Linked DNA regions of Homo sapiens: regions 2 and 3 are each reported to be linked to region 1. The links are microRNA targets in miRTarBase. Many come from high-throughput screens and were not tested one by one. Region 1 holds a microRNA gene; each other region holds the end of a gene's coding sequence.
What was found. The annotated mature microRNA hsa-miR-486-3p reads CGGGGCAGCUCAGUACAGGAU and lies in region 1 at 2,338-2,358, shown strand. An mRNA with a match to its seed (bases 2 to 7 or 8) in the 3' UTR can be bound and repressed. Matches are read on the target gene's strand: a 7mer-m8 pairs with bases 2 to 8, a 7mer-A1 pairs with bases 2 to 7 and ends in A, and an 8mer does both.

Region 2: miRTarBase lists B4GALNT4 as a target of hsa-miR-486-3p. Seed matches in the 3' UTR shown: 7mer-m8 at 4,360-4,366.
Region 3: miRTarBase lists NID1 as a target of hsa-miR-486-3p. Seed matches in the 3' UTR shown: 8mer at 2,594-2,601.

The regions. Positions count from the first base shown.
Region 1 is chr8:41,658,149-41,663,148 of GRCh38, forward strand. It overlaps MIR486-2 (microRNA 486-2), which reads left to right and starts at 2,296; the gene lies at 2,296-2,359. ANK1 (ankyrin 1) reads right to left here. Exons shown (of 43, transcript NM_000037.4): 41 at 3,728-3,793; 42 at 3,282-3,416. The coding sequence ends at 3,318. MIR486-1 (microRNA 486-1) reads right to left here and starts at 2,360; the gene lies at 2,293-2,360.
Region 2 is chr11:381,280-386,279 of GRCh38, reverse strand. B4GALNT4 (beta-1,4-N-acetyl-galactosaminyltransferase 4) reads right to left here. Exons shown (of 20, transcript NM_178537.5): 20 at 4,163-4,611. The coding sequence ends at 4,488. Among named protein-coding and RNA genes, the nearest start is that of PKP3, 10 kb to the left of the region's middle.
Region 3 is chr1:235,973,857-235,978,856 of GRCh38, reverse strand. NID1 (nidogen 1) reads left to right here. Exons shown (of 20, transcript NM_002508.3): 20 at 869-3,027. The coding sequence ends at 990. Among named protein-coding and RNA genes, the nearest start is that of LINC02768, 3.8 kb to the right of the region's middle.

The DNA.
Region 1 (5,000 bases):
CATGAGTCACTATGCCCGGCCCTAGACAGCCCTTTCACAAACATAAACTCAGCAACCATCATAACCATCCTACAAGGGAAATGCTGGCATTATTGCTAGTTTATGGCTAAGGAACCTGAGGCTTAGGGAAGTCATTTGACTTGCTCCGAGTCACACTACAAACAAGACCTGCAATTGTTTGAGTCCCAGAGCATATATGTTCTTATTTACTCTCTTCACATCAGTGCTCACAGTTACCATTATTATTTCTAAACCTTTTTCTTGAAGTGTAGCACATTCGAAAGGGACATTTTCATCCTCCCTTGAGGAGACTGAAGCTTAGGGCGGTTAAATGACTTAAGGCCATACAACCTGGAAGCAGGAGGAGGCCTTGATTCTAGACTCACAAGCTCCAGCTTTCACTCTCTGAAACAAATACAGCCATTTGCCATAGCTCTGTTCTATAAATTAGTCGCTGTTTGAGGCTGTGCACAGTGGCTCATGCCTGTAATCCCAGCACTTTGGGAGGCTGAGGAGGGCGGGTTGCTTGAGGTGAGGAGCTCGAGACGAGCCTGACCAACATGGTGAAACCCCGTCTCTACTAAAAATACAAAAATTAGCCAAGGGTGGTGGCACATGCCTGTAATCCCAGCTACTCAGGAGGCTGAGGCAGGAAGATCACTTGAACCCGGGAGATGGAGGTTGCAGTGAGCCGAGATAGTGCCACTGCACTCCAGCCTGGGCGACAGAGCGAGACTCCCTCTCAAAATATAAATAAATAAATAAATAAATAAATAAATAAATAAATAGTCGCTGTGAACACGGAATTAGCAAATACTGAACCACTGCTCCTAAGGGAAATACAAGGTTAGGCTCCCATGAGCCTCTGGCCACAATATTTTGGTCAACTGATGAATACATAACTTTGTGTTAAATGCGTTTCTGTTTCAAGACGCCTTATGTAATATATAGGGTTGACTCATTAACACTGACTTCACCACCACAAGCACTCTAACTCATCCCTGAGCAGAGCTTATCTGATGTCCATTCCCTCCTTAAGGAACATCCCAGCCTTCTTGCACTTCGCACCAGACAGCACTTCAGCACTGCCCTCAGGGGCCATTCTAAACAATGAAACCAAAAATGTGAAAAATGTGGCACTACACAAGCTGCAAGGAGGACACTTATTTATAGTATGAGGCACAGAGGCAGAGTGTGGCATTGTTCATCCTCAGCTGGGATTGCACGGGTTGGGCGACTCAAACTTTCTGCCCTTGTGTGTGTGTCCATGAATGAGCCAAAGCACGGTGAGTGCCAGCTTTGGGGCTACAGATAAATGTTAGCGAGTGGACGAATTCGCAAATGCAGAATCCGTGAATGATGAGGATCGACTGTACATGCTTGTCGGGGATGCGGATAGTAAATTAGGAAGCCTTTGGGCCCTCAACCGTCTTCTCTGTAGCCTTTGCCCTGGTTGGGAGGGTAGGGCATTTAATGCTGTCCCCTAACCCTCTGGGACTTTGGCAGGAGCTTTTCTCCGCCTCTCCCTCACCACTGCTCTCGCCCCACCGCCCCACCCCCCTGCCACCCTCACACTTGTCCCTGTGCCTGTCACTGACAGAGGGCCAAGTGCTGTCCCAGAGCCAGGCTGCTCCGTGTTTCTGACACCCATGCTAGTGTGGTCCGGTCCTTAATCACCTGAGGTTGGGGGGCTTCAGCCACATTGCAGATCACTTACGGCAAATTAAAATGAAATTCAAGGCTCCCTCCTTCCCCCTAGCCTGGCTTTCGGGCTGCCTCTCTCCCACTCAGGAGCATCCATAGAGCCTGAGCCAAAGAGAAATTTAAAGCCACAGCCGCCACTGCTACCATAAGAAAAATAAGTCAGAAAAGTGTACTTTTCCTTTCCCTTTGCTGCTTTTAAACATTATTTGCATCTTTGGGTTCTTTCCAGGACCCAACAGCAGCTACTCAGAGTCTTCTAAACCAGCAGCCTAGTGGGACCCCTGGCAGTGCAGGGGTTAACACGGTGACCTCCTTAAGCTGCTGAGGTGTCAGGTCTAATTTTATCCTATAACTGGATCTGCCAGTCCTCTTTTTTGCCCAAGTGCTGAGATATATTGGGAAGCCCAGAGTCAGCACTTTTGGTGGCTCAGGAGGCAGCGGGCCCTGATTTTTGCCGAATGCAGAAAGCTAGAGCCTCCTTGCTGCTCGGTCCCAGAGTCAGGCCCTGGGGTGTGAATGGTAACGGCCTGGTTAGTGCTGCACTGGGGCCACCATGCCCCCTCACCTCCTGCTGACTCCCACCCCGAGGTATCCTGTACTGAGCTGCCCCGAGCTGGGCAGCATGAAGGGCCTCGGGGCAGCTCAGTACAGGATGCCCCAGGGAGGATGGAGATCAGAGCCGGCCGCTGAAGCCCCCAGCACCACACACACCTGCTGGAGATGGTCGCACAGCGTCTTCATGTCCCTTCCTCATGGCACGGCACGGCACGGCATGCCCCTGCTCTGTGGCCACACTGCCCCATGCTCACACACATGCACCACAGCCCAGGCCCCGGCCCCAACCCTGACGGTCTCCTGACTTGCAGAAAGCACGTCGTCCACCCCTTAGGCCTGTCGGCTCAGCCCTTTCCTAGAAAGCAAGGGAGCAACGTGTTTCACAAAACACCAAAGAGAAGCTAAGCCTTGGCCTGGTGAGAACTGTAGCTGGGCTCCAGGTTCAAGAGACAGTCCAGTCCTCAGTCTTGGAGCTCTTATGTTGAAGCATCACAGCCCAGACCAACTCTCCTGTCCTCTTCAATGCCCTGTCCACTGCTTTCTAGATCCCCATTGCTTGGTTTCCAAGATAATATTACCACTTAGATTTACAGAGTGCTTTTACTTTTCAAAGAGCATTTTTTTCTTTCTGGCTTTTTTTTTTCTTTTTTTTGTGATGGGGTCTTGCTCTGTTGCCCAGGCTGGTCTTGAACTCCTGGCCTAAAGCAATCCTTTTGCCTCGACCTCACAAAATGCTGGGATTACAGACATGAGCCACTGTGCCCGGCCCAAAAGGCATTCTTACAAAACCGTGCGGTCCCTGATAAGTGGATATTATTAACTCTGTTTCCTTGATGAGGAAGCTGGGGTTCAGAGCCAACTGTTAGCAGGGTTGGGAAGTGAGAATCTCTGCCTCGAGACACAACAACAAGTTGTTTGTCCCACATCATGCTGGGGTGGCTGGGAGGGGATAGGGTGAGACAGGGAGCAGCCACTCCACTGAAGACCAGGCCATGCAGAGGGGATGAGAAGGGCAGCGTTACCTCCCGAGAGGCTACTCCAAGGAGAGCGGCTCGGGGTCACTGTTTCCCCCTTTTCAGGCTGGCCCGCTTCACTATCTGCGCCCCCTTCCTGCCCTCTATCAGGTCCGGCTGTAGGCCACTCCCTCTCAGCTCCACCTGCAGACAGCAGCAGAGACAGAAAGCAGGACAGATCGCAAAGACGGGCAGAACACAGGCAGAAGATCGAAAGGAGGCCACACGGAGGTGGCAGACACACTGCCCACCAGGGAGAAGAGAGACTGGAGAGAGAGCTCATAAAGAGGTGAGTGGAGGGAGGTGTCATGCAGACGGCCCGGCAGAGCAAGGCAGCAGTGATGGCGCTGGGTCCCCCAGGGCCGCGGGCGCCTCAGTACCTTGGAGTGTTTCATAAAGTAATCAATATCGACCTCCAGCTCACTGGGATCCTCCAGGGGCCCCTCTACAGTCACCTCCTCGTGCTCCTGGGCGGCATCGGCGCTGGACAAGTCTATCTGTCGAACCACCTTGCGAATGATCTAGGAAAGGAAGGGAAGGAGGAAAGGGCTGGTCAGGCCGGGCTCGGGGGCTCATGTCTGTAATCTCAGCACTTTGGGAGGCTGACGTGCAGATCATCTGAGGTCAGGAGTTTGAGACCAGCCTGGCCAACATGGTGAAACCCTGTCTCTACTAAAAATACAAAAATTAGCCCGGTGTGGTGGCAGGTGCCTGTAATCCCAGCTACTCAGGAGGCTGTGGCAGGAGAATCACTTGAACCTGGTGGATGGAGGTTGCAGTGAGCTGAGATTGCATCACTGCACTCCAGCCTGGTTGACAGAGCAACACTCTGTGTCAAAAAAAAAAAGGCGGGGGGGCTGGTCAAGCCCTCAAGACAGAGCTTCAGAACAGCAGTTCCCAGGAATGAGCTCCGAGGGGGAGGTAGCTTTTGTCCTAGGAGCCCCTCCTTGAGAGGCCAAGAAGAGGGACAGCCTTTGCCCCATTGCTTAATGGAAAACCCTCTGCTAGACAGCCCTGAAGGGGCCTTGGCAGTGTCATTTCATGACCAAGGTGTGACTGGGTGTGACCTCCCCCTCGAGCCCACAGCCTTCTGTTTTGCTTTTTGATATGGATGGGAGTTTGTGCTCTTCCCCATTCTACTCCCATGAGCCTAAGGGCAGAGGGCATCTCTTTTTCACCCACCCATTCCCGTATTCACCTGTCCAAATCTTCAAACCCTTTACTCTGTATCTGCCGTGTGCTCTGAGTGGGAGGTGAAACATCAGTGAGACACTGTCCCTGCCTGCAAGCAGCTCACAGTGCAGGAGGCAAGACAGACGCACAAGGAGCCTTGCTCAAGGGTGATGAGAGCTGCGCCTAAGCAGAAGCACATTCGAGATCCTGCCTCAGCTCCTCCTCTATTTTACCCATAGCTAGCACCGTGCCCCACACTTGACAGGCAAGGTCATGTCTCTGAGTTAATATCTGCTACCAATCCAATGCATTTTCACTTCCTTTTAATTATTTAATTATTGTGATGGGGTCTCACTCTGTCACCCAGGCTGGAGTGCAGTGGCTCAATCATAGCTTATGCAGACTTGAACTGCTGGGTTTAAGTGATCCTTCTGCCTCAGCTTCCTGAGTAGCTGTGACTACAGGCATGCGCCACCATGCCTGGCTAATTTTGTGTGTGTGTGTGTCTCTCTCTCTCTCTCTGTGTGTGTGTGTGTGTGTGTGTGTGTATTTATT
Region 2 (5,000 bases), not on the chromosome of region 1:
GTCAGCCTGGCCCCCAGCCTTCAGGCCCACCCTGGCTTGAAGGTGGAGCCTCACCAGGGACCTGCCCATTCCCTCCCAGGAGCCTGTCTGCCTCCCACTGCCGCCCATGGTGCCCAGGCCGCTCGTGCCAAGGGGTGCCCACAGGCCAGCACTGAGCTGCCCCCAGCTCCATCTTGGCCTCCCTCCCACACTCATTGGTGCCCAAAGTCTGGAGGGGCTGAGGTGGCAGGGGACTGGCATCTCGGCACTGCTCTGAGGGTGCACACCCGGCTGGGCTGCAACAACACCCGGGCTTGGCCCCGACCCCACTCCAAGATCAGAGTGGGCGCCAGGAGCAGGGACACCCCCAAGCCTGTGGTGTTAGGGGGTCCTCCCTGGCCCCCAAGACCACCAGGAGGCCTGGGTCCACACAGCAGCAACCTGGCTGGCTGCAGCTGCCCCCGTGGTGCTCCCGCCCTGCCAACCCTGCACAAATAAACCCACTGCTCCCAGGGCTGGTTCCACGAGACCCGGCTGTGCCTTCAGCTGGGTGCTCACGGGCTCCCGGGACACGGCAGGAAGCGAGGTTGAGGTGGCTGTGGGGGTTCCAGGCCTGGGAGTGGGTCTTGCCCGGCTGTGGGGGTTCCAGGCCTGGGAGTGGGTCTTGCCCGGCTGTGGGGGTTCCAGGCCTGGGAGTGGGTCTTGCCCGGCTGTGGGGGTTCCAGGCCTGGGAGTGGGTCTTGCCCGGCTGTGGGGGTTCCAGGCCTGGGAGTGGGTCTTGCCCGGCTGTGGGGGTTCCAGGCCTGGGAGTGGGTCTTGCCCGGCTGTGGGGGTTCCAGGCCTGGGAGTGGGTCTTGCCCGGCTGTGGGGGTTCCAGGCCTGGGAGTGGGTCTTGCCCGGCTGTGGGGGTTCCAGGCCTGGGAGTGGGTCTTGCCCGGCTGTGGGGGTTCCAGGCCTGGGAGTGGGTCTTGCCCGGCTGTGGGGGTTCCAGGCCTGGGAGTGGGTCTTGCCCGGCTGTGGGGGTTCCAGGCCTGGGAGTGGGTCTTGCCCGGCTGTGGGGGTTCCAGGCCTGGGAGTGGGTCTTGCCCGGCTGTGGGGGTTCCAGGCCTGGGAGTGGGTCTTGCCCGGCTGTGGGGGTTCCAGGCCTGGGAGTGGGTCTTGCCCGGCTGTGGGGGTTCCAGGCCTGGGAGTGGGTCTTGCCCGGCTGTGGGGGTTCCAGGCCTGGGAGTGGGTCTTGCCCGGCTGTGGGGGTTCCAGGCCTGGGAGTGGGTCTTGCCCGGCTGTGGGGGTTCCAGGCCTGGGAGTGGGTCTTGCCCGGCTGTGGGGGTTCCAGGCCTGGGAGTGGGTCTTGCCCGGCTGTGGGGGTTCCAGGCCTGGGAGTGGGTCTTGCCCAGCTGTGTGAGGGTGGGGGTGGCACCGTCGGCAGCCTTGGGGACATGGGGCACTGGGGACCTGCTGCCGCCACTGCTGCTCCTGCAGTCATCCTGCTCCCCTGTCCGCCTCCTTGCAGCCTGGGGTGAAGACTTTCGGCCCTCACAGAGCCCGGGTCGGCATCCGGGGCAGAGGGAGGCGATGTCACCACAAGATCCCCCTGCAGTTCCAACACTCAGGGGCAGCCTGGGGCCGCCCCTCACCCGACTCGCAACCATGCTGGGAGACACCTCTGGGAGCGGACTGTGGGCCCCGGTTCCAGCTACTGGAAGCACCAGGCTCCGCAGGGGCAGCAGGAGCAGGTACTTCTGAGCCTACAGGGGGCCGGGTGGGGGCCTTCCTGGGCCCCCAAGAGCACAGGAATATTGAGGTGCACGCAAACGAACCCAGTGCCCAGGAGGGCCGAGCTCCTGCCTGCTCTGTGGAGTGGGAGGCCCTGCCATGCCTCTCCGCTGCGGCCAGCATCTTGGCAGTGTCCACTCTAGATGGGCCACCGCTGCCATCACTCCTGCCTCAGCCTCCCGAAGTGCTGAGATTACAGGTGTGAGCCACTATGCCCAGCCTTATCATTGATTTTTAAGAAATTTCCTCAAAGGCTGCCGCTGACCCCTGCCCTCCCCCGCCTGTGTCCTCGGCCGCCTTCACCTTCTCACGCTTGGTCTTTCTGAGCACCCTGCTTAGAAACGCAGTCACGCTCACATGGGCTGCTGCCTTCCCGGGCTTCCTTTCTCTCCACTGCCCTTGCCGCCAGCTGGTATACCAGATGTGTTATTGATGGCGTCGTCGTGCCCCGCTCCCCCCCGTATTAGAATGTAAGATCCTTGGGGGCAGCAGTTTTTGTCTGTTCCGTTCCCTGCCTTTTCCTCAGTGCGGGACATGTAGTGAGTGTGCAATGAATCATTGCTAAACGGATTAAATGATGGTGTGAATCGTCCAGATTACATGGAATTTTGACTTTTTTGTTTTCCAAGGTTAATTCTCTTTCTGATGTGCAGGCTTCCCCTGCCTGTGGTTTACATTTCTTCTATCCTTTTCTCATTTTCTTGGGTTAGCGTGGATCATTAAATCCAAGGCTAGTTCTTCTCTTGCTGCGAAACATCTGTGAGTGGGGACAAGTCCATCTGAACTAGATACACAGGGATCAGCGGGCAGGACAGCTGGTCAGCACATGGCTTCTGGGCATGTGTGTGGCCAGCCATGTCCCCTGCCCTGCGGGCACCTCTGTGGACCTGCACACCTGTGGACCAGCAGGACCTGTGAAGCCCACACCAGGCGACTGGATGCCGCTCTGGTCCACGGCAGGTCCCCCTGGTTCTTCCTTCGGCTCCACCGCCCAGCTGCCGTGAGTGCACGGTGAGCAGTGACCTCAGGACGTATCTGCAGAGGACAATTCTGGCTGCTGGGCCTAGGAGCTATTTTCCCACCCCGTGTGAACGAGGAGGTAGAAAGAAGAGTGACCGCTCAAGATGTGCCTGTCCTAGTCCCAGAACCTGTGACTGTTACCTTCATGGCAAAGGGGTTTTGCAGATGTGACTGAGTGAGGGACGTGATGGTTATCGTGGGTTTGCTGGGAGGGCCCAGTGTCATCGCAGGGGGCCTTATAAGAGAAGGCAGCAGGGTCAGAGTCACAGGAGGAGATGAGGGAGAGAGGGAGAGAGAGAGTGAGTGAGAGAGGGGAAGAGGCCAAGCTGCTGAAATCCAGGTGGCCTTGAGAAGCTGGAGAAGGCACGGACGCAGACTCACACCTAAGTCTCCCGAAGGAACCAGCCCTGCTGACACCTTAATTTTAGCATTTTTTTTTTCCGAGACAGGGCCTTGCTCTGTTTCCCAGGCTGGAGTGCAGTGATGCAACCACAGCTCACTGCAGCCCTGACCTCCCGGGCTCAGGTGATCCTCCTGCCTCAACCTTCCAAGTAGTTGGGACTACAGGTACACACCACCGTGTCTAGGGATCCGGACGCTTCAGCCTCCCAAAGTACTGGGATTACAGGCGTGAGCCACTGTGCCGGGCTTAGTTCTAGGACTTTTTATCTCCAGAACTGTAAGATAATAATTTTTTTAAGCCACTACATTTGTGCCAATTTGCTACGGCAGCCACAGGGAACTCACACACTCACTCGCTGCCTGGCAGAGTACAGCCTCCCTCCTGTGACCTGGCCCAGGCCAGGACTGAGCTGGACCCACAGGCAGAGAGGAGACAAGGCAGGAGTGGGCTTCGACCAGCCTCTGAGTCTGTCCTTCTCTGGTGTCCTGCTGACCCTGACCTGGAGGGTTCCAAAGTCATACAGGCCCCCTGATTACGGCTTCACTGGCTTGAGTTGGGTTTCTGTTTCTGGCAACCCTGAGTTCTGCCTGATCACCCCCAACCCCAGCACACGACATGCCCCACCTGGGTGCAGCAGCTCCTCCACCCTAGAGGAGGCTGGGGTGGGAATGACACCCCGATTCTGTTTGCAGAATGAGGGGAACTGAGGTGGTGACTGCTCATTCCTCGCCTCAGTGTGGGAGGGCCCTGTGCTATCTATGTCTGTTATCAGCGGGCACAGACCCCATAGACACAGGGCGGAGGAAGTCGGAAGCCCCCTCCCCACAGGGCCCGGCACAGAACCTCACAGGCAGGAAGGGGAAAGTGGTCTTGGGGGTAGGAGAAGGAGAGGTCCGGAAGGGCTGCGGCTGGGAGTCAGGAGGTCGTGCTCAGGGTCCCCCAGGGGAGAGGACTCTACCTCTCAAGAGAACAGGCACAGAGGACTAGTCAGAACTAAAAAAAATATTTCATTTCATTCTGAATAAAAAACAGAACAGACAGAACTCTTGGAAATTCTGAAAACAATGTCATCGCTACAGCAAAATTTCACAGAAATCATCGCAGAGTGGGGACCAAGGCCAGGCCCTGACCCGCCGTGAAGGCTGCCTCTCCGGGGAGGGGCACGACGCCCAGTGGGCCAGAGAGGGGCAGGCACAGGCGGTGGCTGTGCCCCTCTGACCAGCCCTGCCGGGTCTCTCGGGACCGAGCTCAAAGCCCAGCCCCCAGCAGCTGCCTCGGGACTCCCACCGGGGCTGGGAGGGGCTGCCCGTCCTCAAGACGCCCCCGTGCGAGAGCCCTTCCTGCTGCGGACGCTCCACATGCCCCTCTTGGAGTGGTAGTGGTGATAGAAATTCCGCAGTCGGAGCCGCTCCACCTCCAGCCCTGCCTGCAGGACCCTGGGGCCGGGGGCAGAGAGGTGGTCAGGACCCCGGGGTTGGGGACGGAGAGGTGGTCAGGACCCCGGGGCCGGGGGCGGAGAGGTGGTCAGGAACCCGGGGCCGGGGGCGGAGAGGTGGTCAGGACCCCGGGGCCGGGGGCGGAGAGGTGGTCAGGAACCCGGGGCCGGGGGCGGAGAGGTGGTCAGGACCCCGGGGCCGGGGGCGGAGAGGTGGTCAGGAACCCGGGGCCGGGGGCGGAGAGGTGGTCAGGACCCCGGGGCCGGGGGCGGAGAGGTGGTCAGGAACCCGGGGCCGGGGGCGGAGAGGTGGTCAGGACCCCGGGGCCGGGGGCGGAGAGGTGGTCAGGACCCCGGGGCCGGGGGCGGAGAGGTGGTCAGTACCCTGGT
Region 3 (5,000 bases), not on the chromosome of region 1:
TTCATTAGCAGGTGAACCAGTTAAATAAACAGAAAATATTAGGTCATGAAGTTGTCAGGATGAGGAAAAGCATTGAGTTTTGGGCTGGATATAAAAGCATAGGGTCTTCAGGTTCCAAATAGTCAGGTTAGGATATTACAATGTTAGGATCTCTGCTCCTTTAAAAGTCCATCCATCTGGCCTAACAGCAATAACAATAATTAATAATAAGAATTGAAAACATATGTGTGGCACTTACTGTGAGCTATGAACTTTACATATATCAACTCACTTAGAGTTCTAAATACTTTGTATTTGTTAGTTCATGTAATCCTCATAGCAACCCTGTGAGGTAGGTACTATTATTATGTTCATTTCATAAATAAGCAAACTGAAGCAACTTGCTCCAAGTCACACAGCTCACAGGGGCAAGTCCAGGCAGCCTGGCCCTGGAGTCTATGCTATGCTGCCTCTTGAAGGCCTCTCCCCTCACCCACTTTCCTTCTCAGCTTCCCTCATCTTCTTCTGTCAGTGTGAAGCTAGGAGTGCAAGCTACATAAAAAGAACTTTGCACTTTAAAATTCCAATTCTATGTTATAATCAGAGCTGGAGAACTTCCCCCTGAGATCTGTTTAATAGCCTTAGTAGAAAATCTGCATAACCCCCAAGTTGGGAATCAGTGTTTGTGTCTGGTTTAATGCTGATAAAACAAACAATGGATCAGCTCAGCTGACTGCCTAGCACAGTGTCCCCATTCTCCTGAAGCCTTCCTAGCATGGCTTCAAGGAAACTAAAAGGGGGATCACACACAAGAAGGAGCCCACTATCTTAAATGGCTATGGAGTCAGATCAGAGAGAGGGCTATTGAACTGATTTCTGCCTTTTCCAGGCCATAACTACTGCTCAGTGAACAATGGCGGCTGCACCCACCTATGCTTGGCCACCCCAGGGAGCAGGACCTGCCGTTGCCCTGACAACACCTTGGGAGTTGACTGTATCGAACAGAAATGAAGACAAGAGTGCCTTATTTCCTTTCCAAGTATTTCACAGCAACACTCTACTTGAAGCAACTTGGTCCAGATTGAAAAGTGTCCTCTGGCTGAGTGGCCACTAGGCCCAGACCCAGCCCAGCCTGAGCCCCAACAACTTTTCCCTCACTGTTCCCCAAAACATGCACCCTGGACTTCTCTAATAGAAAAGTCTCCACCCCTACACAAGGACAGAACCCTCCACCCCTACCCCCAACCCTCAGACAGACTTATACACCCCTGAGTGAGGATTACATGCCCATCCCAGTGTCCTAGGACCTTTTCCCAATACTAGCCCCCCAGTGGTGAACAGAACCTCCCAAATTTGAGTTGCACCCTTCCCTGTGGCCTTATGAGCTCAGCCTCGCTTTGAGGTACCCACCGTCCTGTCAGCTCCTTGACCTATGAGCCGGGGCCTGACTAGGAAAAGTTGGGAGTTAAGGAGGAAATTAGCATTCCTTAATGTTTTGTTTTGGTGCTCTGAATTTCTTCTTTATTATAGTCCTATAGTTTTACTCCTCAGTTCCTCACCATCATCATCTTGTCTAAGACCCCCATTATAATATTCATGCGCTGCTTTTTCATCAAAACCTACCCTGTCCTAGAGATCTATGGGCATTTGGTGGATGATAATGAGCAGCCCCTCCCAGATAGAATGTCAATATTTGAGCAGTAGGATATTGGCATTTGTTAGTTAAAGGCTTAAATCAAAAGAATGTCCAATGGTAGGAATTTCAAGGTGTAGGTCAGATATTTGAGAATAGGGGATTTTTTTGATGTGCCTTAAATTATACCAAAGATTACTAATTATTCCTCTTTGCCCAAAATACTTGCATCCAAGGTTCTAGTCTCTGTTGCTGTGCTGGTCTTTAGCCCCACTGCTTGCACTGATGTCCCTCCTTTTCACGGAGACCTATCTGAGGTACAGGATGGGGCTGGCACCAGATGATGTCCCACCACAGTCCCTCACCTCCGGCCTCCACATGACAGAACCAATTTACACTCAACCATGACCTCACCCCTCCTTGGTTTCTCCCTCGATCTGTGGCCCTTTTTGGATGTATTCTTATCTAACAACACAATCCGGAAAGACTGAATTGAATATTTATACTAATGGTTCATATCCTTTATTGCTCAATGATCTAATTAAAGGGATCATTGCCACATTTCATGTTTATATTTCTACAATTTGTTTAGAAAACATCTCCTGACCATATCAGTAGCTCGTGTTATCTTTTTATCAACTGCTTCCCAGAGTCCTAAAACAATAGAAATTTTGGATTGAAAAGTTCAGCATAAGGAGTTTGAGTCAGTAAAGGATGGGATAAAGGAGTCGAGATGATTCAATGAAAAGTATCACAAAAAAGAGATTGATCAACAAGAGAAATAAAAAAGCCCAAGAGGAAGTGGTAGGGGAAGGAATTTAAGAACAGCAATAAGTAAAACTCTTAAGTAACTCCAAAAAGAAAATGGTACATTTTGCCAAAGACCACTTATACTTGAGAACATGGAAGAATTTGCCTGATACTCTCTTTGGGGAAAAGAGTCTCTCCTCTTTTCCTCAAACCCCAGTACACTCAGCCTCTCTGCCCCACCTTCTCCTGACTTTGTCCTCACTTGCTTCTGCAGTACATTGGAACCTGAATTGAAAGAAAGTCTTCCTTGAATAATTGGAGTTTGTCTTGAGAGGCAAATATAGCCCCAAGAATCACAAGATTCGAGGACCATGTAGGTCTTTTACGTAGCCCAAATCCATAAATTAGTCTCACTTTTTGTATTTATCGTTTCATATTAAACCCTCTATATCAAATGTTCATCATGATTTTGTATGATTTTTATAACTATTTTATTCATTTTATTAGATTTATTCTAAAATTTTTTAATGGTAAATTCTTAAACTGTGGAAACCACTGAAGGTGCTTATTAACTGTTCTCCCAGATTTGTACAAGTATTGGATGATTCCTTGAGTTTACAGCTGTACAAATAGTGTGGAAAATAAACTTTTTTTAAAAAAGAAAATCTTCCTCTATCTTTTCTGAATGAAGAGATTTAATGTTGGGAGGCTGATTCATGATAGACAGACAGACAGCCACTTAATAATCTGCAAAACCTGTGGAGCCCAGAAACTCTTATCCCAGTATTATGAGAGCTAGTATGTTTCTCAACCACAAAAAACCTTAGGGGTTGTAATTTACCTAAAAATGAGTGCAGTGTCTCACACCTGTAATCCCAACACTTTAGGAGGCCAAGGTGGGTGGATCACTTGAGGCCAGGAGTTTGAGACCAGTTTGGGCAATACAGGGAGACTCCATCTCTGCAAAACATCAAAAAAAAAAATTAGCTGGGCATGGTGGCACACACCTGTAGTCCCAACTACTCAGGAGGCTGAGGTGGGAGGATTGTTTGAATCCGGGAGGCCAAGGCTGCAGTGAGCTATGATCGTGCCACTGCACTCCAACCTGGGCAACAGAGTGAGACCCTATCTCAAAAACTTAAAAAAAAAATAAAAAATAAATTATATTATAGATTTCAAGCCACCCTTTTGGATATTGTTTTCATTGAGAAAATATATTCTACAAGCAGGCAATAGAAAAAGTTTTCTGATTCAGCTCTGGAGATAAGCTATGTTTTAATTCTCTTTTTACCTCCAGAAGGAAGAAAGATGCTTTCCTGGCACTGGCTATGGAGTGAGACCCCTGGTCTGTTCTAAGCTGCCACCAACAGGCAGTGCCACTCATGCTGGCCCCTGGGTGGGATGAGAATGGCCTCTGAGTTGAACAGAGTGAAGGGGGCTCAGAAGTTGCAGGAATGAGGTGTCCAGAGCTCAGTTGTTGCAGAGAAGGGAATTGGCACCATCAGTGGAGCCAGTATACAGCCTGCCAGTGTGAATTTCTTGAAAGAGACAACTTACATATGTTAGGGCTAAAACTTCCAGTGTTTTATGCTGGCCATAAAATCTGGTTACTCAAAGACGATATCAAGCTCCATGGTGGAGATAAGAAGCTCCTGGAATCTATCCCTCCATTAAAACAATTGAACTGGCAAGAGCTGTCTGATGCAACTATTTTGGAATTCAGGATCTTAGGGAACACTTGCAGCACCCAGGAGAAAGCTTGATGAGGAGGCTGGCAAGTTTTGGTCAATTTCAGCTCTTTACTTAGTGGTGACTACCACCCACCTTGATCAGCCCCAGGGCAGTCAGTTGTGGGGACAGCAGCTCAGGTACTTAGTGTGGCTTGCTGGAGCCAGGTTGGACAATAAAGACCCAGTTTTCCAAAAACCAAGGTTGTGGGTTCTGATTACTGATTGCTGCTTTTGATCCTTGAGGGGCTAGCATATAGGGAAAAATTTTCATGATACTGGGTTTGTCAAACATTTCTTGGACATATCAAAAGCACCAGCAACGAAAGAAAAAAACAGGTAAGCTGGACTTCATCAAAATTAACATTTTTGCATCAAAGGATACTATCAAGAGAGTAAAAAGACAACCCATGGAATGGGAGAAAATATTTGCAAACTCTATATGTGATAAGGAATTAATATTCAGAATATAACTACATTTCAACAACAAAAGCAAACAATTTAAAAATGAGTAAAGGATTTGAATAAACATTTATATGAAGAAGATATACAAATGGCCAATAAGCATATGAAAAGATGCTCAATATCATTAGTCATTAGGTAAATGCAAATAAAAACCACAATTTGACACCAGTTTACAGTATTAAGATGGCTTTTATCAAAACAAAACAAAACAAAACAAGTACTGGAGAGCATCTGGAAACGTTGTCCGTTGCTGATGGGAATGAAAACAGACAGCTTGGTGGTTCCTCAAAAAGTTGAATATAGAATTACTATATGATCCAGCAGTTCCACTCCTAGGACTATACCCAAAATAATAGAAAACAAGGGCTGGAACAGATGCTTCTGTGTTACTGTCCATTGCAATATCATTCACTGTAGCCAAAAGATGGAAACAACCCAAGTGTCCA